Linked DNA regions of Homo sapiens: regions 1 and 3 are each linked to region 2. Evidence: fine-mapped expression QTL. A gene starts in region 2. Each other region holds a variant in brackets. All regions are shown on one strand. Distances are from middle to middle. Region 1 overlaps PACS2 (phosphofurin acidic cluster sorting protein 2). Region 2 holds the start of BTBD6 (BTB domain containing 6). Region 3 overlaps BRF1 (BRF1 general transcription factor IIIB subunit).

Region 1 (11,024 bases), 73 kb after region 2:
GAGTGGTTGTGCCTGCTCCGGCCCCCACTGACAGGGACGAGAGTCCCCACTGCTCCACATTTGTGCCAACACTCATTTGACTTAATTTTTGCCAGTCTGGTGGGTGTGAAGTGGTATCGTGGTTTTAACTTGAATTTCTCTGATTACTAATTTAGGCCATTTGTACTTCCTTGTCAGTGAAATTCCTGTTCCTTTGCCAGTTTTTTTTTCTCTTTTTTTCTGCTTGAGTTTCAGCAGTTTCTTTAGAGATAGTCATCCTTTCTCGGCTGTGTTGAGGATGTCCCCGTCCAGTTATGAGCGAGTCTTTGCTCTCTGAGCAGCCTCTGGGTGCACTCCCCGTGTCAGCCTGGTGGAGTGTGCACATTGACTGTTTGCCAGGCTGGGGTGCTGGTCTCGTTTCGGTTCTCCTTCTGGGAGGCAGCCGGAGAAGTCTGCCCCCGGGAGCTTGAACTGGGCATGCTGGGCTGTTGTTGGGGAGGCCTGTGCTCCGGGTTTCCTTGCGACGCTTTTGGCTCAGCACTGTTACACACGGTGCTCCTAGGTGGTCCACGGGGTATGCGTCAGTGCCTGTCTGTGGCCTCTGCCTCCTGGGTTCCCAGAGTGTCCTCCTGGTGCCCATGTCCCTGAGCGCCCCCACCTGCTCTTCAGCAAGGGCTGGGCTGCTTTGTACCTTGCCCTTCCCACTTGATTGTTTTTTCGGTTGATGTTTATTAATTTGTTTTTATTTATGTATTTTGTTGTTGTTGTTGCAGAGACAGGGTCTCCCTATGTTGCCCAGACTGGTCTTGAACTCCTGGGCTCAAGTGATCCTCTCACCTCGGCCTCCCGAAGTGCTGAGATTACAGGTATGAGCCCCTGGGCCTGGCCATCTGTTTGGTTTTTAGAGACAGAGCCTCACTTTGTGGCCCAGACTGGGGTGCAGTGGCTTGATCATGGCTCATTGTAACCCCTAAAACCTGGGCTCAAGCAGTCCTCCCACATCAGCTTCCTGAGCAGCTGGGACTACAGGTGTACACCACCATGTCTGTCTAATTTTTTTGTTTTGTTTTGTTTTTTTGAGACAGAGTCTCACTCTGTCACCAGGCTGGAGTGCAGTGGTGCAATCTCGGCTCACTGCAACCTCCGCCTCCCTGTTTCGATTTTCCTGCCTCAGCCTCCCAAGTAGCTAGGACTACAGGCGCCTGCCAGCATGCCCGGCTAATTTTTGTATTTTTATTTTATTTATTTATTTATTTATTTTTATTTTATTTTATTTTATTTTGAGATGGAGTCTCGCTCTGTCACCCAGGCTGGAGTGCAGTGGTGCTGTCTCGGCTCACTGCAAGCTCCGCCTCCTGGGTTCACACCATTCTCCTGCCTCAGCCTCCCGAGTAGCTGGGACTACAGGCGCCCGCCACCACGCCCGGCTAATTTTTTTTATATTTTTAGTAGAGATGGGGTTTCACCGTGTTAGCCAGGATGGTCTCAATTTTCTGACCTCGTGATCCGCCCGCCTCAGCCTCCCAAAGTGTTGGGATTACAGGCGTGAGCCACCACGCCCTGCCTATTTTATTTTTTTGAGAAGCTCTGTCGCCCAGGCTGGAGTGCAGTGGCACGATCTCAGCTCACTACAACCTCCACTTCCCGGGTTCAAGCAATTCTCCTGCCTCAGCCTCCTGAGTAGTTGGGACTACAGGCGTGCACCACCACGCCCAGCTAATTTCTGTATTTTTAGTAGAGACAGGGTTTCACCATGTTGGCCAGGATGGTCTCGATCTCTTGACCTCGTGATCCGCCCGCCTTGGCCTCTGAAAGTGCTGGGATTACAGGCGTGAGCCACCACGCCCAGCCAGAATTATCTTTTTAAGTTTCACACAAAGCCACATTTGGTTTATAATTGGAAGTTCTTTAACTCTGTAGAGCAGGTTGGGGAGAATTGACGTTTGTGTGGTACTGAGTCTTCTCATTCATGATCAAGCTATTTACTTAGGTCTTGAATGTATTTTGAGAGTTTTACAAGATTCTGCTGTCATGCATATCCTTTGTTACATTTATTCCTAGATGCTTGTATTTTAGAAGTCATAGTAAAAGTCAGCTTTTTATTATGTTTGTTGCTAACATATAGAAATTCAGTTGATTTTTCAAAGAAATCAGTGATTTTACTATTTTTAACCTAGTAACTTATCTATAGATTATTTTGTATTTTCAAAATGTATGTTTTGTCTTTTGCAAAAGACAAAGTTGTTTCTTTTCAATCCTCATACTTTTCTTTCTTTCTCTTGCCTGACTGTGCCAGTTGTCATAGTACAGTGTTGAATATGGTTGGTTGCGTGGATTACCCGTGTTCTGTCTTGACCTTAAGGAAGGTTTCCAGTGTTTTACCTTTAAGGACGATGTTTGCTGCAACTTTTTGTGGATAGCCTTTATGCACTTAAAAAGTCTCATCCTATTCATGACTTGCAAAGGCTTTTTAAAGAAATCATTATGAGTGGATGTTGAATATAATCAAGTACTTTCATTAAGAGGATTATATAATTTTTATCTTTTCATTACTATTGTGGTAAATTACATAAATTGATTTTATTTCTTTTCTTTTCTTTTTGAGACAGAGTCTCGCTCTGTTACCAGGCTGGAGTGCAGTGGCGTGATCTCAGCTCACTGCAACCTCTGCCTCCCAGGTTCAAGCAATTCCCCTGCCTCAGCCTCCCAAGTAGCTGGGACTACAGGTGTGCACCACCACGCCCAGCGAATTTTTGTATTTTTAGTAGAGACGGGGTTTCACCGTGTTGGCCAGGAGGGTCTCGATCTCCTGACCTTGTTATCCGTCCACCTCAGCCTCCCAAAGTGCTGGGATTACAGGCGTGAGCCACCATGCCTGGCCGTAAATTGATTTTCTAACATTAACCTATTCCTGGAAAAATACTAGTTTAAGCATGTTGTATTACCCTTTTTAAAAATTGGTGGATATATATTTATTTATGTATTTATTTTTTGAGACAGGGTCTTGCTCTTTTGCCTAGGCTGGAGTGCAGTGGTGTGACCATGGCTCAAGCAATCCTCCTGCCTCAGCCTCCTGAGTAGCTGAGACTACAGGTGCATGCCACTGGCCTGGCTAATTTTAAATTTTTTGTAGAGATGGGGTCTCACTATGTTGCTCAGGCTGGTCTCCAACTCCTGGCCTCAAGTGATCCTCTCACCTTGGCCTCTCAAAGAGCTGGGACTCCAGGTGTGAGCCTCCCTACCTGCCCACATTGGTGGGTTTAGATGATAGTATCTTGTTTAGGACTTCTGCATGTGTGTCTGGGGTCTATGTGCTTCCTTTCTTCTGTAGTCCTTAGCAGATTTTGGCGCTAAGATTTCCTTGTGAAATGAAATGAGTACTGCCTCTTTTGCTGTATCGTGGTATAGCTTATGTAAAATTGGAATCATTTCTTCCTTGAATGTTTGGGATAATTCACTTATAAAATAACCTGACTGGCCGGGCCTGGTGGTTCACACCTGTAATCCCAGCACTTTGGGAGGCTGAGGTGGGTGGATTACCGGAGGTTAGGAGTTCGAGACCAGCCTGGGCAACGTAGTGAAATCCCATCTCTACTAAACATACAAAAATTAGCCAGGCGTGGTGGCACGCACCTGTAATTCCAGCTACTCAGGAGGCTGAAGCAGGAGAATCACTTGAACTTGGGAGGCGGAGGTTGCAGTGAGCCCAGATGGCGCCACTGCAAAAACATTTTTTTTTGAACCTGCTTTCTGGGTCAGTGTGTCAATTTTAATGCACGTTCTGTTTATACTTAAAAGGAATGTGTGTTTGGCAGTTGATGGTGCAGTGTTTGTCTATTAGATCAAGCTTGGTTTACTGTGGTCTTCAAGTCCGTTCCCTTTTTTTGTCTACTAGAAATGTATGTTAAAATCTTATAATCTGAGAATAGATTGGTCCGGGTTTTCTAACAGTTCTGTCAGTTTCTGTTTGATACTTTTTTTTTTTCCAGACAGGATCTCACTCTGTCACCTAGGCTGGAGTGTAGTGGGACGATCACAGCTCACTGTAGCCTTGAACTCCCAGGCTTAATCGATCCTCCCACCTCAGCTTCCCGAGTAGCTGGGACTACAGGTGTGCACCACCACACCTGGCTAAATTTTGTATTTTTTGTAGAGACTGGGTTTTTCCATGTTGCTCGGGCTGATCTTGAATTCTTGGGCTCAAGCAGTCTACCTGCCTCAGCCTCCCAAAGTGCTGGGATTATAGGCATGAACCACTAACGCCCCGTCACTTAATATATTTTTGAGGCTATGTTATTAGGTACATACATGTTTAGAATTGTAATTCTAGGTATTTTGAACTTTTCTCATTGTATGACTGCTTTTATATCTAGTAATGCTTTTTGTCTTTAGTATTGACTTTGATGCAAGCATTCTTTTGGATAATTTTTGCCTGTTAGCTATTTTTCTATCCTTTTTAAAAACCTTTGTATATCCTTACATATTAGATGTGTCTTTGGTTATTCAGCATGTATCTAGATTTCATTTTCATTCACTCTGACCTTTTCTGACTTTTTTTTTTTTGAGACAGAGTCTCGCTGTGTCGCCAGGCTGGAGTACAGTCGTGCAATCTTGGCTCACTGCAACCTCTCCTCCCGGGTTCAAGCGATTCTCCTGCCTCAGCCTCCCGAGTAGCTGGGACTACAGGCGCCTGCCACCACGCCCAGTTAATTTTTGTATTTTTAGTAGAGACGGGGTTTCACCATGTTGGCCAGGCTGGTCTCGAACTCTCGACCTCGTGATCCGCCCGCCTTGGCCTCCCAAAGTGCTGGGATTACAGGCTGAGCCTCTGTGCCCGGCCTTTTTTTATTTTTATTTTTTATTTTTTGAGACGGAGTCTCTCTCTTTTGAGATGGAGTCTTGCTCTGTTGCCCAGGGTGGAATGCAGTGGCGCAATCTTGGCTCACTGCAACCTCCACCTCCCAGGTCAAGTGATTCTTGTGCCTCAGCCTCCCGAGTAGCTGGAACTACAGGTGCGCGCCACCGCACCCGGCTCATTTTTTTGTATTTTTAGTAGAGACGGGGTTTCACCATGTTGGCCAGACTGGTCTCGAACTCCTGACCTCAAATGATCTGCCCGCCTCGGCCTCCCAAAGTGCTGGGATTACAGGCATAAGCCACCACGCCCAGCCTACCCTGTACATTTTAATGTGCATAGTTAATTGTATCTTTACTCTCCTGCTGAACTATGCAGGGACCTTAGCCCACTTTATTCTAATCCAACCCTTTCATGTTTATATTTATATGATTTTGTTACTGTGTATCTTAATTGTTTTCTTGTGAAGCCCACAAGATGTTGTTACTG[C/T]TTTATACTGTGATATTTGATGAGCTTCAAAACTCACCACTTCCTTTGTTGCTCATTCTTCTTGCATGTCAGGAATCATTTTCCTTCTTCTGTTGAATATTTGTTCTTAGGATTTCCTTTAGTGAGGATCTGCTGATAACTACCTTCTCTTTCTGTTTGTCTGAAGATGTTTTAGTTTACCCTCACCCTGAGCAGGGCGTGTGCTGGTTGTACGATGCTGGGGTGGTGTGTGCTCCTCCCACAGGTCCAGGCAGGGCGTCCCTGGCTTTGACTTCCAGCTTTGCTGTAAGAGGTCAGCGGCCGTGACAGGCTGGAGGGAGACGTCTGGGTGGCTTTGTGGTCATGTCATCGTTGCCAACGGTCGTCTCATGGTGGGTCCTGGTGTGGGTTCTCTTGTGATTGCCTGAGTCGGGGTTACTAGACTTGCTGACTTTGTGGATCGATGATTTTCATGAGTCCCGGGAAGCTCTCAGCCACTTTTTCTTCTGCTGTTGGTTCTGCGCTATTCTCTCTCTCACCTCTGGAGCAACAATTGGACGTGTTGCTCTTCCTGCCGGATCCTCCACATCCATAGATGCACTGGGTGGTGTCAGTGGGCGGCGGCTGGCTGGGGCAGTAGCCTGTCTCCAGCCCTTCCCCCTGCCTCTGTCCACGTGCAGGGGCGTCTCCTCAGGACGCATGTTGCCTACTGACCGCTGCCAGCCTGCACGAGACTCTCACGGCGGGACCCTGTCTGCCTTGCTCGGTGCTGCCCAGAGCCTGCACAGTGTAGCTCCTTGGCGGACGTTCCTGTAATGGAACCAGGATGTCATGCCAAGGAGTGTGGTTTCATTTTGAGTGGTGGGGAAGTCGCTGGACTATTTCAAGTGTGTGTATTTGGGAGAGCAGTGCTGCTGGAGTGGTGGACCACACTGGAGGTGGAGATTGCCTCAGGGTGTGCAGGTGGAGATGGGTGGGAGGTGTCGTGCAGGGCTTGGGACAGGGCTTTCGGAGGTGGTCTGCAGTGATCCAGGGAAGATGGGCTGCTCTGAGGGAGGGGCTGAGGAAGCTGACCTGGGCAGCCAGTGGCCTGTAGGCTGGGCAGCACTCGAGCTGGGGCCAAGGGGCAGCAGGACGGTGCCCGTAGCCCTGGAGGCCTTGGGGATTCGGAGGACCTGGCCCATCGCCGTGGCCTGCACGGTGCGTGCACACCGCTCTGTCCGCGCAGGCTGTGCCCTGCTTTCAAGATGCCTGGAAACCTCTGGCAGCTCTGTCCTGCTGTCAACACTGGAGTCACATGTCAGTGGGTCTCCTGCTGGGGACTGGCTTTTGTGCAGGAGATGGAGGGCAGGGGGCTACAGTGCCCTTGGACTAAAGGATGCTTTCCTTGGATCTGGGCACTAGAACCAGCCCTTTCCCTCTCTCTGCCCAGCATTCTCAGCATGCGTCTCAGGAAGGTTTGATGGAGTGGGCAGCTGCGGTGCTGTGGCGGGGTCGGGGGGCTGCTGCAGAGAGCGGGTCTGCGGTCAGTCACAGTGACGGGGGTCTCTTTGGACCCTGTGACTTGTGTGTGGTGGTGGCAGGCAGTGGCGTTGCCGAGACAGGGTGCTCAGGTGCAGGTGGGAAGGGGTGGCAGGATGGAGGTTGTACAGTGCTTTCCCCAGGACCAGGGGGCAGGGTGTGGCGTGCTTATTCCTGCCTGGCCGTGGAGGGTCTCTGTAGGACAGGCTCCCGCTGAGGGCAGCCCTGAGGCCTGTGAGCTGCTGGCCCCGCAGGGTGGCTGGGCCTGGCTGGCTCAGCAGCTGCTCTGAGAGGCAGCCCTAAAAATAGCCGAGCGCTGAGAGGCCGTCCCTTTCTGCTCCGCAGGCGCGCGCCGATGTGTGCTCAGCTCAGGCCGACTTAGCAGGGTTGTGAGAGTGATGAGAGCGTGGCTGCTGGTCATGGTGCTGGGGTCGTCAGCAGCTCCTCGAGGGCTCCGGCCTGTGGAGGCCGGTGGCGCCCCGTCTCACCCCACGGATGGGGGGCAGGCTCTCCAGGAGCCCCAGGGAGCACTGGCTACTGCTGGGCTGCTCTCAGGCCCGGGACATTCATGGCCGTAGCCCCAGGTCCTCTGCATGGTCAGGGGCCATGCTGGGTCCCCTGGGGTGCAGATGCCGCTCAACAGAGGAGTCAGGACCCAAAAGGGGCAGAAATGGGCAAGGGAAGACACTGGGGAAGGGGTGGGTCTGCCCTTCCTGCTGGGGGTGCACACGGGCCTGGGGCTGAGCAACCCGCTCTGGGCCTGGCTGTTCCGCTCCACTGCCCCAACCAGCCTTTCCTCAGCACCCCCTGGCCAAGCTGTGGGCACCCCCTGCCCCCGGACACAGGCAGCACCTGGCCAAGTGCAGAGACACTCCAGCTGGCTCTTCGCCTGTGTCCCAGCCCTGAGGGCACCGTCGTAGGGTGGTGGGACGGGGGGGGGCTCGGACACAGTGGTTGTGGAGGGGTCAGTGCTGTGGCTCGGGGTGGGGTGGGGCTGGGGGAGGGTTTGCTTCAGGGTAGCGGCTCTCTTCAGGGGTTCAGCAAGGAGACAGATGGGTTCTAATGACCCCTGAGTCCTGAGACAAGGTGGGGTGAGCTGGAGCAGGGGAGGGGACTTGGAAGGGCCTTCAGTCCCCATGCAGCCCTTGCACAACCTTTCGGGCCAACATCCTGGGCCTTGCTTGGCAGAGGAGTTTGGGATCCACGGGCTTGAGGCCCAGGTGGTCAGCTCGCTCGGTGCAATGCTGTGTCTCGCATTTCTGTCTCTCGACTGCCCCATCCAGCCCGTGTCCTAAGAGCAGCTGGCAGCAGCCGCCACGCACAGGCAGCTCAGCTCAGCAGCCCCAGGAGCCAGGTGTGTCTTGAGCTGGGCAGCAAAGTGGCCATGCAGTCCAGCCTCCCTTCAGCCTTCCCCAGGATGCCTTTCATCTTGGGGAGATGGCCATTGTGGGGGTGACCAGCACTGTCCCTTCCCTGGCAGGCCAGGATGTGGATCCACAGCGAGGCAGACCTGCAGATGCACATCCCTCTTCTCAAATGCTGTTCTTGTTCTGGTGAGCACGGGGAACGGCACCAAGCCAATGCTGATGGGAAGGGCCCTGACCTTGGGCTGCTGTCCTGCGAGCTTGGCCCCTCTGCTGGGCCCCTCCTCCATGCCTTTGTTTACTCTCCAACCTTCTGGGAGTCCCACATCTGCATCAGGACAGAGGTGACCAGGGACCAGTTGACAGCTAGGATGCCACCAGCATCTTTTGTTTAATTTGAGTCTCATTTCCCAGTGTAATTCTGTAGCTGACCTTGCAGGAGGCATTGACAATATTTCTTTATTGTATGGCCCCAGCCAGGACTTCCCTCTTTTTAGATGCAAAATAATTGGGCAAGACTTTTCATGGGCATTGCATGCTGGGCTCGTGCAGGTGTCTCCAGGGCCGCCTCGAGACCAGCGCCCGCCTCCCTGGTCCTGGATACAGGTGGGGCGGGGGCTCCCCCGCAGCAGTGGAGTTGAGACCCGCACCTGCTTCCTGGTCCTGGACACGGGTGGGGCGGGGGCTCCGCAGCAGCAGTGGAGTTGAGGCTTCCGTATGAGCTCGCTCCTGGTCAGTTTGAGGGTGGACATACCAGACATCCTGCATCTTCCCAGTCGCCCCAGGAGCGCCTCAGGAGGGTGAGTGGCAGGAGGCCGATGCCCTGCTAGCAGGCAGTCCCTCGGGGCCAGGCCTTCCTGGTGCGGTGCTGAATTGGGCTGTTCGTTCCTCTGAGCACCAAGGAGAGGGATGGCGGCTCAGGCTTCAGGCAGTGCCCGCCGGTGCCTCTAGAAGGTGCTCCGTGGTGGGGCCCGGGAGGGTGGCCCTTCCACATTCTCGGGCTGCCTGTGTGCCACCCAAGTGTCAGGTCATGAGGCCCCTCGGTCTGGCCTAGGGCTCTCCTTCCTCCCCCACCTCAAGCCTGGGGTGTGGCCTAGCCAGGGAGGGGAGCGGGAGCTCTGGCCGTGAAGACCCACCCTGAGGTCTGGGCTCTCCTGGCCTGAGCGTGCTTTCTGCTATGAGCTCCACGTTCACCCTGCGGCCAGGACTCTACTGTTCCTCCTGGTGGGAGCTGCTGTGGTGCCCTGGGTGGCCTCCAGTCACCGCCAGCCTGCCCCTTGCAGTCAGTCCTGCTGTTCCTTCGGCTCCTGCAGTTTCCAGCTTGGCCCTGGACTTCCTGTTTTTCCCACCTAGCTGGACGTAAAGGTTGTCGCGCCTTGGAAAGTTAAGTCACTACACCCGAATCGACGCACTCTTGGCTCGCCTGGCTATGGCTTCAGCTGGAAACGGAGCTGAGCGTGGCTTATGTTTATAAATACAGCACCTATCAGGTCCAGCGTCGCTGTCTCCTGCGGGAGGTGTCAGCTTTGGGCGTGAAGAACAGCTGCAAGGCCACAGGGCCAAGGGGTATCTCACCAGCTGGGAGGCCGGCGTGCCTGACCTGGCCACACAGAGCGAGCCTCAGAAGCGAGGGGGAAGGAGGGCAGGCCTTGGGGAGGGGTCCAGGAAGGTCGAGAGGCTGCAGTGGTGGTAGCCTGAGGGGATGTGCGCGGCCAGGTCAGTGCCTGCCGCTACTGCCTGCTGCGCTGACTGCCTGAGCACTGGGGATCGTGGGCCTGAGGGGCGGGGACCTTGGCTCCCGTGGATAGCTCCTGCACCATCCTCTTGCTTCTCAGACCCTCGGCAAGTGGTGACAGGGGGCTGGGGTGGAGTTGTTCTCCTGCCGTGGTCCTGTCAAATGGTGCTGGGGGCGGGGCCAGGAATCACAGCAGGTGTCTGCCGCTAGCGCTCGGAGCCTGTGCTGGGGGCAGGGTGGTGCATCTCATGCCTCTGCCGCTTGCTCACTGTACTTGCCTGGGGAGGATGTGGCAGGGGCAGAGGACAGCTGGCCAGGCTCTTGGACTGCACCTGACTCTGGTGGGCTATCGAAGGTTTTGGAGGTTTCTTTAATTAGCAACATGATATCCAGAGATTGCGACTGTGGCTCGAGCGGTTCCCTGCCAGGGAGCAGGACCATTGACAGCCGAGCCTTGACTCACCGGCCCAGGCCACCCGAGGGGCCATTGACAACTGAGCCTTGGCTCACCGGCCCAGGCCACCCGATGGACCATTGACAGCCGAGCCTTGGCTCACCGGCCCAGGCCACCCGAGGGGCCATTGACAACTGAGCCTTGGCTCACCGGCCCAGGCCACCCGAGGGGCCATTGACAGCCGAGCCTTGGCTCACCGGCCCAGGCCACCCGAGGTTTCACTGCGGATTCTATCAGAACAGTGCCTCCCCCCAGGATTCGTCAACCTTCAGTGGACCAGGCCCTGCAGTGGTTCCAGTTATTCCCTGGGAAAATTTCCAGCACTGATTAGGGGGTGACTCTTGGTCAGAGGTTGAGTGTTTCCCTAGGTGTGGAGGTGCACGGAGAAGAGAGGGGTGCAGTTCTTAAAGGACACATGGCTTATGCCACACCCCCTGCCCCAACCCCCGGAGTGGCCAGCTTTCCTTTGACTGGGGAGGAGGCAGCTGTCCAGGGTTGTCCTCACCTCTCCTCCTGGAGAATGTGGTCCCTTCAGAAAGGGGACCCAGTAGTGGGTGACCTGGTGCAAACCACCCACTGCCTCCTCTGGGCCTTCCTGGGGCTCTTCGGCTCTCAGGAGAGGAGGGAGCTCAGGCTGTGGCTGCTCTG
Region 2 (11,024 bases):
CCCGGGAGTTCGAGGTCAGCCTGGGAAACACAGCAAGACCCCATCTCTTAAAACAAAAATCTGGGGCCGGATGCAGTGGCTCACACCTGTGAGTCCCAGAACTTTGGGAGGCCAAGGCAGGAGGATCGCTTGAGCCCAGGAGTTTGAAACCAGCCTAGGCAATATAGTGAGACCCCCATCTTTACAAAAAATGAAAAATTTAGCCTAGTGTAGTGATGCATACCTGTTGTCTCAGCTACTTGGGAGGCTGAGGTGGGAGGATTGCTTGAGTCCAGGAGGTCGGGGCTGCATTGAGCCATGACCTTGCCACTGCATTCTAGCCTAGGTGACTGACACCATGTCTCAAAACAAAAAACAAAAAAGACAAGCAAAAAGTGTTTTTTTCAAGACAAATCTGTCAGTGACTAGGGTGGAGGAGGAAGTGGTGGGCAGCGGCGGCACGGTGGGCAAACGCGGAGTGGCAGAGCGGCACGGGACAGGCATGGCATTTCATCATGGAAAGGAACCCATGTCAAGCAGCCTGGAATCTGCAGGCGCACAGCGACAGAGGAAGAATTAAATGAAGGAAAAACACTGGAAACAACCTTCAAAACCACAATAATAGGGGATTTTAACATGGTTCTCTGAAATTTGACAGACTGATTAGGAAAAAAAAGACTAAGGGACGACTTAAGACACATCACCATAGACTCAATCTGACAAGGATGTTCTAAATTCTGTACCCCATGGAGTCATCATGCTTCTCCAGTGTCTGTGGGACAGTTATGAAAATGACCAGGTATGATAGAACAAAGAAACCCTCAATATATTTCAGGTAACAGCACATAGGACATGCCATTTGACCCCAAGTGCAAAAAAAAAAAAACTAAAAATGAGCAAAAACAAGTAGTCCCCTCACCTCCAAACGCTGTTAGAAATTAAAGTTCAATCCTTCAGGTAACTTTATTAACTCAAGCGCTTTGTGTATTTAAGGCAGCAATGGGTCAGGCGTGGTGGCTCACACCTGTAATCCTAGCACTTTGGGAGGCCGAGGCAGGTGGATTGCCTGAGCTCAGAAGTTTGAAACCAGCCCGGGCAACACAGCGAAACCCCGTCTCTACTAAAAAATACAAAAAATTAGCCGGGCATGGTGGCAAGTGCCTGTAATCCCAGCTACTCAGGAGACTGAGACAGGAGAATCACTTGAACCTGGGAGGTGGAGGTTGCAGTGAGCTGAGATCGTGCCACTGCACTCCAGCCTGAGTGACAGAGCAAGACTCCATCTCAAAAAAAATAAATAAATAAATAAAGGAAGCAATGAAATTAATGAACTAAAATAACAGAAAACTAAAAATTAACAAAATTAATTATTTAAAGTAGGCAAAGGGACTAATAAGAAAAAGAAGCAAATAAATTACCACTGTCAAGAAAAGAATTAAAAAGTCCAACAGCCAGTATGGTGCTGACATAAAGACAGACCTACAGACCAACAGAACAGAACAGGACAGGACAGGACAGGACAGGACAGCACAGGGCCAGAAATGACAATGACAGACAGATGACCTTCAACAAGGGTGACAAGAACTTCTTGCACAATGGGGAAAGGATGGTCTCTTCAATATGCAGCGCTGGGAAAACTGGATATCCACTTGCAAATAAAGATAGACCCTTACCTTACATCATACACAAAAACTAACTCAAAACCGATGCAAGACCCAAACACAGACTTGAAACTGTAAAACCCTTAGAAGAAAACAAAGGGAAAGACTTCACGACATTGGTCTTGGCAATGATTTCTTGAACATGACACCAACAGCAAGGGCAACGAAAGTAAAAATAGACAAATGGGATGACCTCAAACTAAAAAGTTTCTGCACAGCAAAGGAATCTATTAACAGAAATGATATCCTATAGAATGGAAGAGACTATGTGCAAACCATCTATCTCATAAGGGGTTAACAGCCTGAATATACAAAAAACTCCAACTCAGGAACAAAATCGATTAAAAATGGGCAAACTGCACTTTTGTAATCCCAGCTCTTTGGGAGGCTGAGGCACAAGAATCGCTTGAACCTGGAAGGCGGATGTTGCAGTGCACCCTCACCACCGCACTCCAGCCTGGGCAACGGAGTAAGACTCTGTCTCAAAAAAAAAAGGCAAAGCCCTTGAACAGACGTTTCTCCAAACACGCCATGCAAATAGCCAACAAGCACATGAGTAGATGGTCAACATCATTATTTATCAGGGACATGCAAATCAAAACCACATGACACTACCTCATGTCCATTAGGATGACCATTATCACAAACAAAAAAGAATAGGCTGGGCGCGGTGGCTCACACCTGTAATCCCAGCACTTTGGGAGGCCTAGGCAGGTAGATCACTTGAGGCCAGGAGTTTAAGACCAGCCTGGTCAACGGAGTCTCGCTCTGTCATCCAGGCTGGAGTGCAGTAGCATGATCTCAGCTCACTGCAACCTCCGCCTCCCTGGTTCGAGCCATTCTCCTTCCTTGGCCTCCCGAATAGCTGGGATTACAGGTGCCCGTTAATTTTTGTATTTTTAGTAGAGATGGGGTTTCACCATGTTGGCCAGGCTGGTCTCAAACTCCTGACCTCAAGTGATCCGCCCACCTTGGCCTCCCAAAGTGCTGGGATTACAGGCGTGAGCCACCGCGCCCAACCTACACTGTAACATATTTAAAAATCAAAGTGCAAAGGGTGGTTTCTTTCTAAGGATGAAAATTATTATTCACATGCTCCACACCACCATGCAGATCAAGACGCTGACTACCTCTGGCGGCTCAGCAATTCTATCCTGGCACCCCCGGAGACAGCTGTCGCCCAGGTCTTGTGTGCTGCTGTAAGTTATTCCTTCTCACTGCATTCCCCAAATGGACCCACCACAACCTGCTGATCCTTTCTGTTGCTGATGGACATGTAGGCTGTCTCCACTCTGGCCATTTGTATTTCTCCTGGAAACTGCTTATGCCCGTTACCTTTTTCTATGGAAACAGACGGCTGGGACAGAAACCACGGCCACAGCAGCCAGCGTGTCTTTGCCAGTGGGGTCCCACACTATGAAATCGCAGCTGTGGCCTCGGTGGGTGTGTCCTTGGCGGGTGCATCCACACACTTTCTCTCGGAACTTTCCGGACTCTCATGCATATGCTACAGCTTTCCAAACGGCTTGGCCGTGCGGAGTTACGCACCCACCTGCAGCAGGTGATCTCCAGCTGCTCTGCATTCCACCAACACTACGTGACAAGTCTCAAGTTCAGCCGCCTGGGGGCTCGGGCACCCCATTCCTGGGAGAAATGATGATTTGTGCACTCTGGGCCATTGCATGGTGTCTGTTCACGTCCTTTGCCCGTTTTTTAAAAAACTGGGTTGTCAGCCTTTTCCTTCCTGACTTGTAGTTGCTCCTCCATCCTGGAGAGTCCTTTGTTGAAAATACCGCAAATATCTTCTGAAGAGGACTCTCCCAGGGAACATTCACTACAACTGTAACGACCACAGAGACACAGAGCTCCTGTTCACTGTTTAGCCCAGGACTGCGGTGACAGGTGCACCCATGACCCGAGATGCTGGCTGCGTCCTGTGGGGTTTCCTGCATATGGAAGTTTTAAAAGTCTAAAGCCTGGCGGTCCAGGAGGTTGCGTGTGTGTCCTCGGGGAGGAACCCTCCTGACAGCCAGGCCTCTGGAGCTTCGTCTGCACGCGAGCTTGGCATGCACCAGCTGTGCGGCCCAGGCCAGGTGACACGGCCTCTGAAGTCTGGTCTCCTCATCAGCAAAGCCAGTGCCCCATGCCACGCACCTCCCAGGATTAGCCCCAGGCCGGGAGGCTAGAGGCCCCACAAGGAGCGAGCCTGCGACTGCGATCCACAGGCAGAGCCACAGAGGCAGGGCGCGCCCTGGGGCCCAAGCTCCAGGGCTGCAGGCCCAGGGCCAGATCCTGACTTGCCCACCCGCCGGCTGTGTGACCTTCAGCGCGCGACTAACCTCTCTGTGCCTATTTCCTCGAGGAAAATGCCGGGAAATAGCAGCGCCTGCCCCTGTAAAGCCCTCAGAGCAGAGTGGACCGCGCTCTCTGCAAGCGCTGGCTGCTGGCGTCCGTAGCAAGCTAAATCGCGAAGCATCTGAACGAACGAGGAAGCCCAACGACCATCCCACAGGCCGCGGCCAGAGGCAGACTCCGGAATGCAAATGGCCAAACAAGCAGGTCCACCTGCGTTCCTAACCAAAAGATCGCTAACTGAAGAACGGGCGCAAGCACCTGCGCATGGCACTGCGGGTCTGGGGGCGGCCGCCTGCCAGCGCCGGGAGCCGCCTTCCACGGCTACCTCTGCACAGCGCGCGGCTCGCGCCGGTTGCTGGGCAGAAGCTCGAGCAGCTTCGAGGATGTCGGGCCTGGGGGCGGGGCCGCGAGGCAGCGACGTCGCGCGGGGCGCGGCCCTGACGCAGCGTGACGCACCGGCGCCGCGGCGGGTACGGGCTCGGGCGGGCGGGCGGGCGGGACGGCGCCCCCCGCGGCCGGGCCTGGCCGGGCTGCGCTAGGCTGGGCTCGGGCAGGGTCGCAGGGGCGGGGGTGGCAGGGGAGCGGGTGGCAGCCCCGCGGGTCACAGCGCCGCCGCCGCCCATGCTGCTGCCCCTAGCCTGCCTGCACGGCCGCGTCGCTCAGTGCCTGACCTCCTTGCTTTTGCTTGCAGAGCCGCTCCCGAGGCCCCGGCGCGGCGCGAGGGCGCGGGGCGCGGCGTCCACAGGCGCCGAGGCTGCCCCCGCCGCCCCGCCCGCGAAGATGGCGGCGGAACTCTACGCTCCCGCCAGCGCCGCGGCCGCGGACCTAGCCAACAGCAACGCCGGCGCCGCCGTGGGCAGGAAGGCCGGGCCGCGCAGCCCGCCCAGCGCCCCCGCGCCAGCGCCGCCGCCGCCCGCGCCCGCGCCGCCCACACTCGGCAACAACCACCAGGAGAGCCCCGGCTGGCGGTGCTGCCGCCCCACGCTGCGCGAGAGGTGAGCCCGTGCCCCGCGGCCCCCGCGCCCGCGCGCGCCCACGCCCCCAGCCCGTGCCTCTACCTTTGCAGGAACGCGCTCATGTTCAACAACGAGCTCATGGCCGACGTGCACTTCGTCGTGGGGCCCCCGGGGGCGACCAGGACGGTGCCCGCCCACAAGGTGGGTAGCGGCGGCCCCTCTCGGAACGCGTGCCCCGTCCGCCCCGTCCGCCGTGTGGCTGACACGCAGCCTGCGGGAGAGCCAGGCTCACGGCGGCGCTTTCTCCTCCCAGTACGTCTTGGCTGTCGGCAGCTCCGTCTTCTATGCCATGTTCTACGGAGACCTGGCGGAAGTCAAATCTGAAATTCACATTCCAGACGTGGAGCCCGCAGCCTTTCTGATCCTCTTAAAGTAAGTCCACTCTACTGGGGAGGGACGGGTGGGTCCGTTTTAGGCGGCCTCCGGAGGCTTCTGAAGGGAAGCACACAGGAGCTGATGGACTCCTCTCCCAGGCCCAGCCCCGCGATGGGTGCTTGGGAGCCAGCCCCTGACGCGGGCCCTGCCTCGCCTAGGTACATGTACAGTGATGAGATCGATCTGGAAGCCGACACGGTGCTGGCCACTCTGTACGCTGCTAAGAAGTACATCGTCCCAGCATTGGCAAAAGCCTGTGTCAACTTTCTGGAGACAAGTTTGGAAGCCAAGAACGCCTGCGTCCTGCTGTCCCAGAGCCGGCTGTTTGAGGAGCCCGAGCTGACGCAGCGCTGCTGGGAGGTCATTGACGCACAGGCCGAGATGGCCCTACGGTCCGAAGGCTTCTGTGAGATAGACCGGCAGACGCTGGAGATCATTGTCACTCGGGAGGCCCTCAACACCAAAGAGGCGGTGGTCTTCGAGGCCGTCCTGAACTGGGCCGAGGCGGAGTGCAAGAGGCAGGGGCTGCCAATCACCCCACGAAACAAGAGGCATGTTCTGGGGCGAGCCCTCTATCTGGTCCGAATTCCAACCATGACCCTAGAGGAGTTTGCCAACGGCGCTGCCCAGTCAGACATCCTGACTCTGGAGGAGACCCACAGCATCTTCCTGTGGTACACGGCCACCAACAAGCCCCGCCTGGACTTTCCCCTGACCAAGAGGAAGGGCCTCGCCCCGCAGAGGTGCCACCGATTCCAGTCTTCTGCCTACCGCAGCAACCAGTGGCGGTACCGCGGGCGCTGCGACAGCATCCAGTTTGCAGTGGACAGAAGGGTATTTATTGCAGGGCTGGGCCTGTATGGCTCCAGCTCTGGGAAGGCTGAGTACAGCGTGAAGATTGAGCTCAAGCGGCTCGGGGTGGTTCTGGCTCAGAACTTGACCAAGTTCATGTCAGACGGATCCAGTAACACCTTCCCGGTCTGGTTTGAACACCCGGTCCAGGTTGAACAAGACACCTTCTACACGGCCAGTGCCGTCCTGGACGGCAGCGAACTCAGCTACTTTGGGCAGGAGGGGATGACGGAAGTGCAGTGTGGAAAGGTGGCCTTCCAGTTCCAGTGCTCCTCGGACAGCACCAACGGGACTGGGGTCCAGGGTGGGCAGATCCCTGAGCTCATTTTCTATGCCTGAGGTGCCCGGGGAGGCTGCAGCAGGTCAGCGAGTGAGTGGAGGGGAAGTCAAGATGCTAACTGCTTCTTGACACCATGAAAGGCTGCTCTTAACTTTGTCTCTCTTTGACATGTAGTCAGCTGAAGCTTGACTGTGTAGAGACATTTTCCACACAGCCAGAACCCAGGGATTGGAGTCTTAGGCATCTCTGGTACAGTGGGGTGCACGTCTCAGGTGGAGGAAGATTTACGGCTCAAGACAGGCCCCAGATCCCCTCCCAGTGGCACCCATGCCACCTGCTTTGAGGGGTTGGATCTTCCTGCTACCCTCTTGGATTCTAAGTGGTTCCAAGCTTAACTTGAGACCTTCCCTTCAAATCTAAAATTGGCAAAAAGTCACTTAAAATAGTGGACTTCTGTAATAAAGGTTGCCTAAAATAACACCCACGTGTCAGTAAATGACTACAGCAGTTGTACAGTGGGGTATTCTCTTTCTCATGCAACAGAACAGCTCCCTCCCATCCCGAGGAGAAAACCTGTCATGCTGAACATGCTATGTGGTTAGGAGCAAACTGCGCCCCAGTGAAGCCCATCTGTCCCCTGGGTTGCTGGCTGGCTTCTGGGCCACCCTAGGAAACACCAGGTGCCTGGTTGTCTCTATGTCCTAATGCATCACTAGCACCTCAGAGTCCTACCCTATGAACAGACTGTCGGGGGAGCATTCTGCTGGGCCCAGCGTTCTGGACCCTGGGGACTGTCACTAGCTGTGACACTGCTGCGGGACAGCCTGTTGCAGGAGTGGACTATAGGGTGAAACAGGCTCTCCCACCCCTTGTCTCTCTCCTCCCACTCTGCATACCCTGTAGGCAGTTGTTTTCTGGAAAACCTGTATGACCCCCGAAAAGAGGGATGGCCCCTCTTGGCACCTGGGAGAGGGCATGGGCCGAGTGTATAGCCTCAGCCGGTGCCCCTCTGCTGCTGCAGCCCGTGTTGCTCAGTCCTGTTGGTGACCCAGCCCCACCTGGTGCTTCTCTACCCAAAGGACATACGCTCCTAGATGCAAACAGGCAAAGTAAGAAAGGGGCCTCTAAGCGGGCCATGGAAACCAGTCATCTGCTTGGTAAAGAAAGGGTAGGTCAGAACCATCGGGCAGTGAGTGCTGTTTTGATCCTTTCCTTCTAGACTTTTCCGCTAGGTTAGATTCTGCATGCATGAACACTGCTGCTGCCTCGAGGGAGAGACAGGACTTACCCTACACCTAACACACATCAAGAAAGGCATACAGGAGTTCCACAAACTCGCACACAACACAGAACAAAAGTGGCAGAAAAACCACAAAAGAGGGCTGTGGCTGGAAAGCACAACCAGGAGCTGCCCCACTGTCCCCATCTGTCCAGAGGCACCTGGAGCCAGGTGTGTCCCTTAAACCTTGTCCACACAAGATGCTCCCAGCACGCAGCACTTGTTTCCCTGTCTACACCTTCCTGCCACCTGACAGGCACTGACAACAGGCCTTCTGGTTTTGCAGCAGAAAGCAAGCCCCAGGCCAGGTGCGGTCTCATGCCTGTAATCCCAGTGCTTTGGGAGGCGAAGGCACGAGGATCACTTGAGGCCAGGAGTTTGAGGCTGCAGTGAGCTACGATTGTGCCACTGCACTCCAGCCTGGACAACAGCGAGACTGTGTCTTAGAAAATAAGGCCCCACATTACTGAGCTCCTAGCAGCTTTAAGAAACATTTCTTACCTTGAGGGGTCCCATGCTTGGACAGGATTTCCCTCCACTGTTCAAAGGACATTTGGCACGCTGGTCCCTACAGCAGCCTGCCGGACACCCCAGCATCTCACCCAGATGCCTACCTATGGCCGGCGCATTGATGCAGAGCTCTCTTGCCAAGAGAAGAAACGTCTTTCCAAGCACGTACACATTCACCTGAGATGGAGAGATCACAACCAGAAACAGCATTGGTATTTAAGGAAATGTTTGCTTTTTTTCTCTTAAAATGCATCTCTTGTGCAGTCTTTAAAGACTCCGATGGCCCGTGGAGCAGCCACCCCACACCCGCAAGCCTGGCTGGCCTCCCTTGGCTGCTGGGGCTCCCAGGGCCCTGCCTTCTTCCTCTAAGCCGCTGCTTTAGGCCGTGCTGCCGTCTCGCCAATGATGGCATCTGCTTAGAAGAAAACCTGACTGCAAGGTTCCTCCCAGGGCGTCATCACACGGTGCACGCAGCATTTCATTCACAACTGCACACCCATGAACACAAAACCAGTTCTGTCCACATGTGCTCCCACCAGCCACACCTCCAGCCCAGATTCCGATGGGCCCAGGGGTCTTGGCCTCAGCCCCCTTGCTGGGACTGAGATCTGTGTTCCTCAGTGACTCCCCTGCCCCCCACACTGTTCCTACCTTAGGTCCAAATCCACACAGATCCTGTCACCCCTGCCTCGGCTATCTGCCATAGGGCAGTGGAGGTGAGGCCCAGACCGAGAAGGGCAACGCCGAGGGCTGGCAGTGATGGGAGCACCGCTGCTTGTCCTCAGCAAAACAAGGACTCTAGCCTGTGTGCAGACCCTGTGCACAGCCCTGCCGTGGGCCGAGTACCCCTAAGGAGCCCTGCTGGCTGGGGGAGGACACTTCAGAGCAATGTCTGCTGGCAGGTGTGGATGAGGTGCACAGCGGGAATAGCCTGGTCCCTACTGGAGCCTGCAAGAGCCCTGCCCACACTTGGCTGTCTTCATCCCAGGCTTGCCCCTGGGGCCCCCGGGCCTCACAGGCTTGGCCAGTCTGACCCTCTGCCACTAGCCTCCCCCAAAGAATTCCCTCGCCTGACCAAGCCCGGCTCGTGGGCCCTTAGACAAGTCCCCTTGTCCTGGCCCGCCAGTGGCACTTCCAGGTGCTTGCTGACTCCAGGGTACTGGGAGACCTAAGGGACCGCACACAAAGGGTCCTGTCTGCGCTAGAGGCAAGAGACAGAGGCAAGAGCCAGAGGCAGCGCTTGTGGGGGATGCCTCTGATCAGGGACCCTGCCCGCTGGGAGGGCTGGGCCCCCACAGCAGCTCCTCCTGGTCACCATCCACCCCAGTGGGGCGCAGCTTCCATCTTCTCCATTATATCCGAGGGCTCCATCACAAGGGCTGGTGGCTCACAGAGTGTGCCTTCTGAAGGAATTTCCCCTCCTCACAGTTTCTGGGGGTTCCAGGGATCCCTGGGGTCTGCTCACCAAACTGGGGGGCGTGTCAGCACATGTAGTGTGTGTGTGCATCCGCATGCAGTGTGCAGACATGCATGTGTGTACACACGCATACAGTGTGTCTAGGTGTGACTCACGCATGTCATGTATGAGTGCCCCAGCCCCTGTGCTGGGTTCCTGCCAGGCCCCTGCATCTTGATCGTCCTGATCCCACCATCTCTCTTTAAGCCACAGCAGAACCATGATCTGCTGCTGGCCTCTGCCTGCCCACCTCAAACTCCACACCCCCCAACCTTGTGTCCCAGAGACACAGGGATCAATGAGACCTGAACACTGCAAGTGAGGAATCTCCAAAGGGCCTTTACATGGAAACTCACGTTTAAAAAGCCATGTGTGCAAAACGCGTGCAGTTTTTTTGTTTTAGTTTGTTTGTTTTTGAGACGGAGTCTTGCTCTGTCGCCCAGGCTGGAGTGCAGTGGTGCAATCTCTGCTCACTGCAAGCTCTGCCTCCCGGGTTCACGTCATTCTCCTGCCTCAGCCTCCTGAGTAGTCAGGACTACAGGCGCCCACCACCACGCCCAGCTAATTTTTTTGTGTTTTTAGTAGAGATGGAGTTTCACCGCGTTAGACAGGATGGTCTCGATCTCCAGACCTCCTGATCTGCCCGCCTCGGCCTCCCAAAGTGCTGGGATTACAGGAGTGAGCCACCGCACCTGGCCGCAGTTTTTTGTTTGTTTTCTTGAGACAGAGTTTCACTCTTGTTGCCCAGGCTGGAGTGCAATGGCGCAATCGTGACTCACTGCAACCTCCACCTCAAGGGTTCAAGCGATTCTCCTGTCTCACCCTCCTAAGTAGCTGGGATTATAGGCATCCGCCACAACGCTCAGCTAATTTTTGTATTTTTAGTAGAGACGGGGTTTCACCATGTTGGCCAGGCTGGTCTTGAACTCCTGACCTCAGGTGATCTGCCTGCCTCAGCCTCCCAAAGTGCGGGGATTACAGGTGTGAGCCACCGCGCCCGGCCTAAATACATGCAGTTCTTTACAGAGTTGCTACCATGTATGAGGACCATTTATTGGAAATTCTCTTGCTAACAGTCTAACTGTGGCTGCTCCTTGAGGGCAGGTCAGGGTGGGGCACAGCCAGCTGCCCCCCCCATCTCTCTTCCTGGGCAGCAGGTGGATTCTGCCTGCAGACTGCCCTCGTGGGTGTCTGATGAGCTGTGTGCCCAGGCCAGTGAACAACCTGGGTCTGCCCTAAGGCAGGGATCAAGAGGGAGACT
Region 3 (8,599 bases), 40 kb after region 2:
AAATCCCAGCTGACTTCTTGGCAGAAACTGACAAGCTGATCCTAAAATTCATATTGCCACTCAAGGGACTTCAAACAGGCAGCATAACACTTTTGAAAGAGAGCAGTTAGAGGACTCACAGTTCCTGATTTCAAAACTGACTGCGAAGCTTCAGTGTCCTGAACAGCGTGGAACGGGCACCAGGACTGTCATGCAGTCACTAAGCCAAACTGAGGATCCAGAAATGAGCTTTTAGGTTTACGGTCAATCGATTTTCAGCAAGGGCACCAAGAGGATGCCAACTGGCAAAATACAGTGTTTTCAACACATGGTCCTGAGAAAACTGGGTCTGCACGTGCAGGAGTGAAGGCAGGCCCTTACCTTACATCACATGCAAACGCTGACTCAATATGGACCAAAACCTACTGGAAAGAGAGGAAGGCGCAAAACTCCAAAAAATCATAAGCACAAATCTTCACGATTTGGACTGGATTAGGCAACATTTGTTAGTTATGATACCAAAAGCACAGCCATCAAGAGACTAAATAGGTAAACTGGATACTATCAGAATTTAAAACTTTCATGCTCCAAAGGATACCAGCGAAAAATAAAAAGACAAAAGAAAATGAAAAGAACGCATGAAATGGCTGAAAATGTCCTATAAATCACACATCCGATAAAAGACTTGTACCTAAAACACATAAAATCACACATCCGATAAACGACTTGCACCTAAAATATATAAAATCACACATCCGATAAAAGACTTGTACCTAAAACACATAAAGAACTTTTTCAACTCAATCATAAGACAAATAACCCAGCAGACATTTCTCCAGTTTGTGGTGAACTGGCACTTTGACAAAACGCAGTGAGAATGTCACTACAATATCCAACTGCTATAAATGTGTTATTTCTGCCTCCATCTCACTGAGGCCATCAAGCAATGGCTGTGGATCCTGTGGGATCCACTGGGTTCTCCCCAAACAGCCCTGGCAGAGTCTGCAGGACACCCAGGAGGGGACTCAGGGCACAATTCCTCCTGGAAAGCAGCCTGGGCTGGGCGTGCAGGGTGACGAGGAAGTGGCAGGCCATGAGGTCCATGGCTGAGTCAGTGCCCTCCACCCTAGCACCACCATCCCCATCTCTGGGACCCGCCGCACGCTCAGCAGCATCCGCGGTGGGAAATACCATTCTGCAGGGTCTGCGCTCTCGACTCCTTCCCCAGATTCACGTGGAAGCCGCCACCCAGAGTCGGGGTTTTGCCAGCACCTGGAAACACAAAAAAAGACAGATCAGCCAAAACTTGGAGATCTGCATTTACAACCCTTTCCTAACATCCACAGACACAAAGTGAGAACAAAGCGGGGGTCAGCACTCATGGGGGAAGCAGCAGGTCGGCCCCCCGCACCTCCGTCACTGAGCCAGGAACCCCAGTGGGGGAAGCATCTCTCACTCTGCCCAGCCAGCAGGGTTGAGGGTGGGCCAACTGCACTTTCCGCATTTTCTTTTTTTTTTTGAGACGGAGTCTCCCTCTGTTGCCCAGGCTGGAGTGCAGTGGTCCCATCTCCACTCACTGCAAGCTCCGCCTCCTGGGTTCACGCCATTCTCCTGCCTCAGCCTTCCAAGTAGCTGGGACTATAGGTGCCCGCCACCACGCCCGGCTGGGATTACAGGCACTTTCTGCATTTTCTAACCATGTCCCTAACACACTGCAAGTCCAGAGTGGACGCTGTCAAATGGCTGCCGGGCGAGAACACAGATGTACCTCCAAACCTCTGCAAGTGGTGCACACACAGCATGGGCTGGCCGTCCCCCTTGCCCCAGGCCAGCCCACTCAGATATCACTCCTGCATGGTGACCACATGTGAACACATCCACCTCCCTGCTGGACTGCAGGGGACGCAGGTACCATCCCATGTGCCCCAAGGCACTGCAACCAGCCAGTCTGCAGAAGGCCCCCACGCCTCAGTCCACCCACCCATGGGGAGGCTGCAGCTGAACCTGCTGGACACTCTACTCCGAAGCTCTGCCAACTGACAGCATGCCTACGACGTCCACCACATTCTGCCCTGCAGGGCTTCGGGGTTAAGACCTGGCCCTGGTACCTCTGGAAACATCAGGTGGACATTTGGATTGTTCACCAGGTTCACCAGCCCGATCGCTGCAGCCTGATCTCCCAATGAGCATGGTGGACATGTGGATTGTTCACCAGGTTCACCAACCCAAACGCTGCGGCCTGATCTTCCAACGAGAACAGTAAGGTGAGGCCCCAGGCATGCCCAAAGATGGGGAGAGCTGGAAAGTGCCCCCCGCCCCGCAGCGTCGGCCCTCAGTGGTTGGCACAGGGGCCAGTGCATTTGTGACAAAGCACAGACACAGGACTGGAGGCTGCTGCAATCGGGACGCGCAGACAACCTTGGCCACTTGGGGGAAGGCAAGTGTGTAGGGCCTGTCGGAGGACACTGGAAGGATAGGATGCAGAAGCAGAAAGCCAATCGCTGGAGCCTGGGGCCAGGCCCTCCAGGGAAACCATGAGGCAGGGACCTCAGCGTCATCCAGGGGCAGCCACCAGCACAGACAAGGCAGAACAGGCACGGCCTCTGGCTTCACAATGAATGTAACTGAATCCCAAACAAATACTAACAACACTCTTTAAAGACTCCAGTAAAATGATTCTAAAGTTCAGTTGGAAGCAAAAAGGAATTAGAGCAGCCAAGAAAAGTTTTGAAGAGAGCAAGGGGCAGCTACTGGGCCCGTCCGGAAACTCAGAGCTGAACAGGGTCAGGTGGCACTCAGCTTTTCCTGGTGGCAGCAGAGGCAAAGCCCGGGCCTCCTTCAGGCTGAGGCCCAGAGCCGGCCTCCTGGTGGGTAACGTGGCCACAGGGGTGGCCGGCAGCAGCAGCAGGGCACCAGCACTGAGCACAGGCCTCCAACAAAGGTGGTGCCGGGACGGGGGCAGTGCCTGGAGACTACCTAGGTTGTCACAACTGGGATCTATGTACTAGTTTTCTGTGGCTGCCATAAAAATTGCCACAAACCT[A/C]GTGGCTTTCAAGAAGCTGTAGAAGGTCCGGGCGCGGTGGCTCACGCTTGTAATCCCGGCACTTTGGGAGGCCGAGGTGGGTGGATCACGAGGTCAGGAGATCGAGACCATCTTGGCGAACATGGTGAAACTCTGTCTCTACTAAAAATACAAAATTAGCCAGGCGTGGTGGCGGGTGCCTGTGATCCCAGCTACTCAGGAGGCTGAGGCAGGAGAATCGCTTGAACCCAGGAGGTGGAGGTTGCAGTGAGCAGAGATGGTGCCACTGCACTCCAGCCTGGGTGACAGAGCAAGACTCCGTCTCAAAAAAATAAAAATAAAAATAAAAATAAAATAAAGTAAAAAAGAAGCTGGAGTGGTGGCCGGGCATGGTGGCTCACACCTGTGGTCCCAACACTTTGGGAGGCCGGAGCAGGAAGATCGCCCAACCCAGGAGTTCAATACCAGCCTGGGCAACACGGGGAGACCCATTTCTTTCTTTCTTTCTTTCTTTTTTTTTTTTTTGAAACAGAGTTTCGCTCTGTCACCCAGGCTGGAGTGCAGTGGCGTGATCTTGGCTCACTGCAAGCTCTGCCTCCTGGGTTCATGCCATTCTCCTGCCTCAGCCTCCCGAGTAGCTGGGACTACAGGTGCCTGCAACCACGCCCGGCTAATTTTTTGTGTTTTTAGTAGAGACGGGGTTTCACTGTGTTAGCCAGGATGGGGGGAGACCCATTTCTACAAAAAAAAACTGAAAAAAATTAGCTGGGTGTGGTGGCACCTGCTTGTGGTCCTACTACTCAGGAGGCTGAGGTTGGAGGATCACTAGAGCCCGGGAGGTCGAGGCTGCAATGAGCTGAGATCGTGCCACTGCACTCCAGCCTGGGTGACAGAGCAAGACCCTGTCTCAAAAAAAAAAAAAAAAAGAAGCTAGAACAGGCCAGGCATAGTGGCTCACATCTGTAATCACAGCACTTTGAGAGGCTGAGGCAGGAAGACTGCTTGAGCCCAGGAGTTCAAGACCAGCCTGGACAACATAGCAAGATCCCATCTCTACAAAAAAAAAATGAGCGGGGTATGGTAGGGCATGCCTGTGGTCCCAGCTACTCAGGTGGCTGAGGCAGGCAGATCGTTTGAGTCCAGAAGGTGGAGGCTGCAGTGAGCTGTGATGCACCTCTGCACTCCAGCCTGAGCAACACGGTGAGAACCTGTCTGAACAAATAATAAACTAAACAGAAGCTGGAGCAGGTCGCAGTGGTGTCTCCTTGTGGGGGCTGGAGAGGACCTGGCAGGGCCACAGTGAGGTGCCTGCTGATATGAGAATCCAGAAGAGAGGCCAGGGAGAAACGCAGGACTCAGGAGAGACCCATCCTGGAATAAGGGGGCTTTGAGCAGCACTGATGAGCCAATTCTAAATTCTGCAGAAATCTGGCCCAGGCCTCCCCAGGCTGAGCTCCAGGTGCCTGCAACTCCGACCCTCCCTCAGAGTTCTTTGTTTTGTGAGCAGTGTGTATTCTTTTTTTTTTTGAGACGGAGTCTCGCTCTATCGCCCAGGCTGGAGTGTAGTGGTGCGATCTCGGCTCACTGCAACCTCCGCCTCCCGGATTCAAGCAATTCTCCTGCTTCAGCCTCCTGAGTAGCTGGAACTACAGGTGCGTGCCACCACGCCCAGCTGATTTTTGTATTTTTACTAGAGATGAGGTTTCACCACGTTGGCCAGGCTGGCCTTGAATTCCCGACCTCAAGTGATCCACCCACCTCGGCCTCCCAAAGTGCTGGGATTACAGGCGTGAGCCACCACGCCCCGCCTGTTTTTTCTAAGCGTTCGAATTAAGATCACCATTCTGTGTAGCCCCTGGCATGCTGGTCTCCAGCACATGCTCCCTCACCAACTTTCACTTTAGAAAAAGAAAAATCTCACTATATTCTAATTAGTGTATATAATGCTTTTAATAAATAACTCATATAACACTACATTAGAAAAAGGACAATGATCAAAGTATAAAAAGCCAGCTGGGTGCAGTGGCTCACGCCTATAACCCCAGCACTTTGGGAGGCCGATGCGGTTGGATCACCTGAGGTTGGGAGTTCGAGACCAGCCTAACCAACAAGGAGAAACCCCGTGTCTACTAAAAATATGAAATTACCCAGGCATGGTGGCACATGCCTGTAATCCCAGCTACTCAGGAGGCTGAAGCGGGAGAATCACTTGAACCTGGGAGGCAGAGGTTGTGGTGAGCCGAGATCGCGCCATTGCACTCCAGCCTGGGCAACAAGAGCGAAACTCCATCTCAAAAACAAATAAATAAAAAGCCCCTGAAGCCCCACCTTCCAAGAACAGGGGACGCCGTACAGCCTCCATTATAGCCACGTTTCCCTGCCTAGGTACAGTGGGCTGCAGGCGTGCTTCTGACAGAACAGGGCCACAGTGAGATGCCACGTTAAATTACAGTGATGATTTCGATTCTGGTTGTGTTTTACGCAATCTCTTCACTCCTTGACCCATACCCATCAGCTTGCACCACAGCACACTGCAAAGCTGCATGCGTCAGCAGCTCCACGCTCCACCTGCCACCTCTGCCCTCCCTCCTCCATCACTCTGTCTTGCACCCTCCAGCCTCCCATACCCTCCTCACACCCCAGGACCTCTGTTTCCTGTCCCTGTGTTGTTCTCCCTGTCCCCCAACACCACAGTCACCCTCCCTGGGGCCACGCTGCTGCACCTGCTCTGGAAGCGCCTCCTGGCTTCTGCTTGCCTCACACCCTGGTGCGTGCACACTTGCAGGCACACACACACAGGACACATGTGGACAGTGTGAAACCTCAGAACACTAACCCACAGGGAGGATGAAAGAGGAAAGTGCCACCTCTGGCTGAAACTGCCAGGATGCCCTCTACTTCTAAAAACATTTGGTATTTTCCATAGCGTGTTTCTATAACAAAAAATATGTGCTAGTTCCCGTTAGCTGGAACTGACATGTGGAAGGGGCCAGGTCTTGTGGGGCCTGGCCAAGACTGCCCCCCTGTGTACAGCAAGGGAGGACCTGCGGTTCCACCAGAGCCAGAGCAGGGCCAGAGGCCGCAGGGGCACCTCTGAGCTCCGACAAAGCCAGCAACACCCCATACCGCCGAACAGACAGAAAGGCGGGCCAGGGGCCCTCCATGTCCTGAAAGACCCAGCACAGCACTGTCCATTTCACACCAGGATTCTTCCAACATGAGAAAGCAATAACCTTTAATATTCACGTGCTCATTCAACTTAACTGGGGGCGGGCTCAGTGGCTCATGACAGTAATCTCGGCATTTTGGGAGGCCGATGTGGGTGGGTCACTTGAGGTCAGAAGTTCAAGACCAGCCTGGCCAACAGGGCGAAACCCCGTCTCTACTAAAACATACAAAAAAAAAATTAGCCAGGCATGGTGGTGTGCTCCTGTAGTCCCAGCTACTCGGGAGGCTGAGGCAGGAGAACTGCTTGAACCCAGGAGATGGAGGTTGCAGTGAGCCAAGACTCTGTCAAAAAAAAATTTTTTTTTAACTGGAGACTTTCTGTTGCTGCTGTGAAACTTCCTTTTTTTAAGAGACAGGGTCTGGCCGGGCGTGGTGGCTCACGCCTGTAATCCCAGCACCTTCGGAGGCCAAGGCGGGTGGATCACCTGAGGTCAGGAGTTTGAGACCAGCCTGGCCAACATGGCGAAACCCCGTCTCTACTAAAAACACAAAAATTAGCCGGGCATGGTGGCACATGCCTGTAATACCAGCTACTTGGGAGGCTGAGGCAGGAAAATCGCTTGAACCCGGGAGGCGGAGGCTGCAGTGAGATGAGATTGCGCCATTGCACTCCAGCCTGGGCAACAAGAGAGACACTCCATCTCAAAAAGAAAAAAAAAGAAGTCTCACTCTGTCACCCAGGCTAAAGCGCAGGGGCACCATCACGGCTCACTGCAGCCTCAACCTCTCGGACTCAAGGAATCCTCCCACCTCAGCCTCCCAAATAGGCGGGACCACAGACATGCGCCACCACGCCTAGCTAATGTTTTCTTATTTTTTGTTTTCTTTGTTTGTTTTTTTGAAGACAAGACAGAGTTTCGCTCCTGTCGCCCAGGCTGGAGTGTAATGGCACGATCTTGGCTCACTGCAACCTCCACCTCCCGGGTTCAAGCGATTCTCATGCCTCAGTCTCCCAAGTAGCTGGGATTACAGGCGCCCACCACCATGCCCAGCTAATTTTTGTATTTTGGGGTTTTTTCTTGTTTTGTTTTTTTAGTTTTTGTAGAGACAGTTTCACTATGTTGCCCACGCTGGTCTCAAACTCTTGACCTCAAGTGATCCTCCCACCTTGGTTTCCCAAAATCCTGGGATTACAAGCATGAGCTACCAAACCTGACTGGAAACTTCTTTTAAGGGGAGACACCTGTAGGAGGCCTGGCTGGCTGGGCAGTAATGGATGGAGAGGAATTCAGGGGTCCCACAGGTGAGTGCCCAAAGGAGGCTGGACCAGACCGCAGTGCATCCCTGAGAGCTGGGGACGGGGACCCGGGAACACAGAGCGTGTGCCTACTGGTGGGGCTGGATGCAGTAGCATCAGACATCTGGGAGGAGCACTGACAAACAGGGCCAAGCACGGCAGCCCACACCCCTTCCCAGGCGCAGACCCTTCCCATGCGCACACCCCTTCCCAGGCACAGACCCTTCCCAGGAGCAACCCTTTCCCAGGCCCACACCCCTTCCCCAGGCCCACATCCCCTCCCCAGGTCCAGACCCCTTCCCAAGCCCAGGCCCCTTCCCCAGGCCACTGCGGAGGAGCTGGTTTTGTAGTGATTACAATTTGGTTACGGAAAACAGGACGTGTGTCACGCTGCAGGCTAACCAGCAGCTTCCTCCCTCACCCAGATGGCAACGGGACAGAATTCACCCGTTTCCTAAGAGCAGGCACCTTCAGCCACAACTTAGGGTTCTGGGGGTCATGGAGCAGAGGCAGAAGCCTGGAGCCTTCCACCCTCAGGACTAGAGCCCCGCCAGGAGGCCAGGCGCATGCTCAGAACCCCAGGCCGCAGGGAGAGGCTGGCCGGTCACATCCTTCTCTGAGGCAGAGGGAGCTTCCCAGCAGGCGAGGGCAACTCCACCACCCATGTCCCCCTCCAGGGCCAGCGCCAGGTGACATGCAGCCATGTCACAAATTAGGTCCGGCTGCATCGTGACCCCAAACGGAAAACAGCAGCACTCACGGACACCCCAGCTTCGAAGTTCTAACTGTGAAGCCACTGAAAGTTGTGATTACGGGAAACGCTCCCCACCCCCACAAGTTCTGGTGACACTGAGGTGTGCTGCTCCTTGCACAGGACGAGGAGGGACCCCTGCAAGCAGGAGCCCAGGATGTCTGGTGTGTGGGCGCCATCACCATCACCTGCTGGCAGAGGGAAGCCTCAGGGCACACACAGTGCAGGACACTGATGTGGGCTCACAGGGAAGCCCCGCCTTGCCTCAGTGGAGCAGACGGCCTCCTCAGGGCACTGCCAACGGCCCCCAACTCCACCGTCTGCCTGGCCCCTCCAGCCACGCTGAGCCTCAGTCCTCACCCACCCTTCTCTCTGCACAGTC

Evidence for each region. PIP is the estimated chance that this variant, and not a neighbour inherited with it, causes the effect. A credible set is the group of variants that fine-mapping cannot tell apart.
Region 1: its variant is the best candidate, but not a certain one, in a credible set for the expression of BTBD6 in whole blood (TOPMed, PIP 0.89).
Region 3: its variant is the best candidate, but not a certain one, in a credible set for the expression of BTBD6 in whole blood (TOPMed, PIP 0.61).

What each region holds. Positions count from the first base shown.
Region 1 is chr14:105,317,416-105,328,439 of GRCh38, forward strand. All of the region lies in intron 1 of PACS2 (phosphofurin acidic cluster sorting protein 2), which reads left to right. Among named protein-coding and RNA genes, the nearest start is that of PACS2, 8.2 kb to the left of the region's middle. RefSeq lists enhancers at 5,505-6,014, 10,603-11,024. The variant C/T (reference allele first, on the strand shown) is at 5,324.
Region 2 is chr14:105,244,096-105,255,119 of GRCh38, forward strand. BTBD6 (BTB domain containing 6) reads left to right here and starts at 4,438. Exons shown (of 4, transcript NM_001387567.1): 1 at 4,438-4,990; 2 at 5,062-5,152; 3 at 5,265-5,383; 4 at 5,545-6,998. The coding sequence starts at 4,617. The coding sequence ends at 6,577. BRF1 (BRF1 general transcription factor IIIB subunit) reads right to left here. Exons shown (of 18, transcript NM_001519.4): 5 at 8,412-8,484. RefSeq lists enhancers at 4,064-4,854, 5,646-6,435 and silencers at 4,230-4,789, 4,990-5,039.
Region 3 is chr14:105,285,126-105,293,724 of GRCh38, forward strand. BRF1 (BRF1 general transcription factor IIIB subunit) reads right to left here. Exons shown (of 18, transcript NM_001519.4): 2 at 1,171-1,251. Among named protein-coding and RNA genes, the nearest start is that of BRF1, 12 kb to the right of the region's middle. RefSeq lists enhancers at 798-1,696, 7,948-8,097, 8,248-8,367. The variant A/C (reference allele first, on the strand shown) is at 3,023.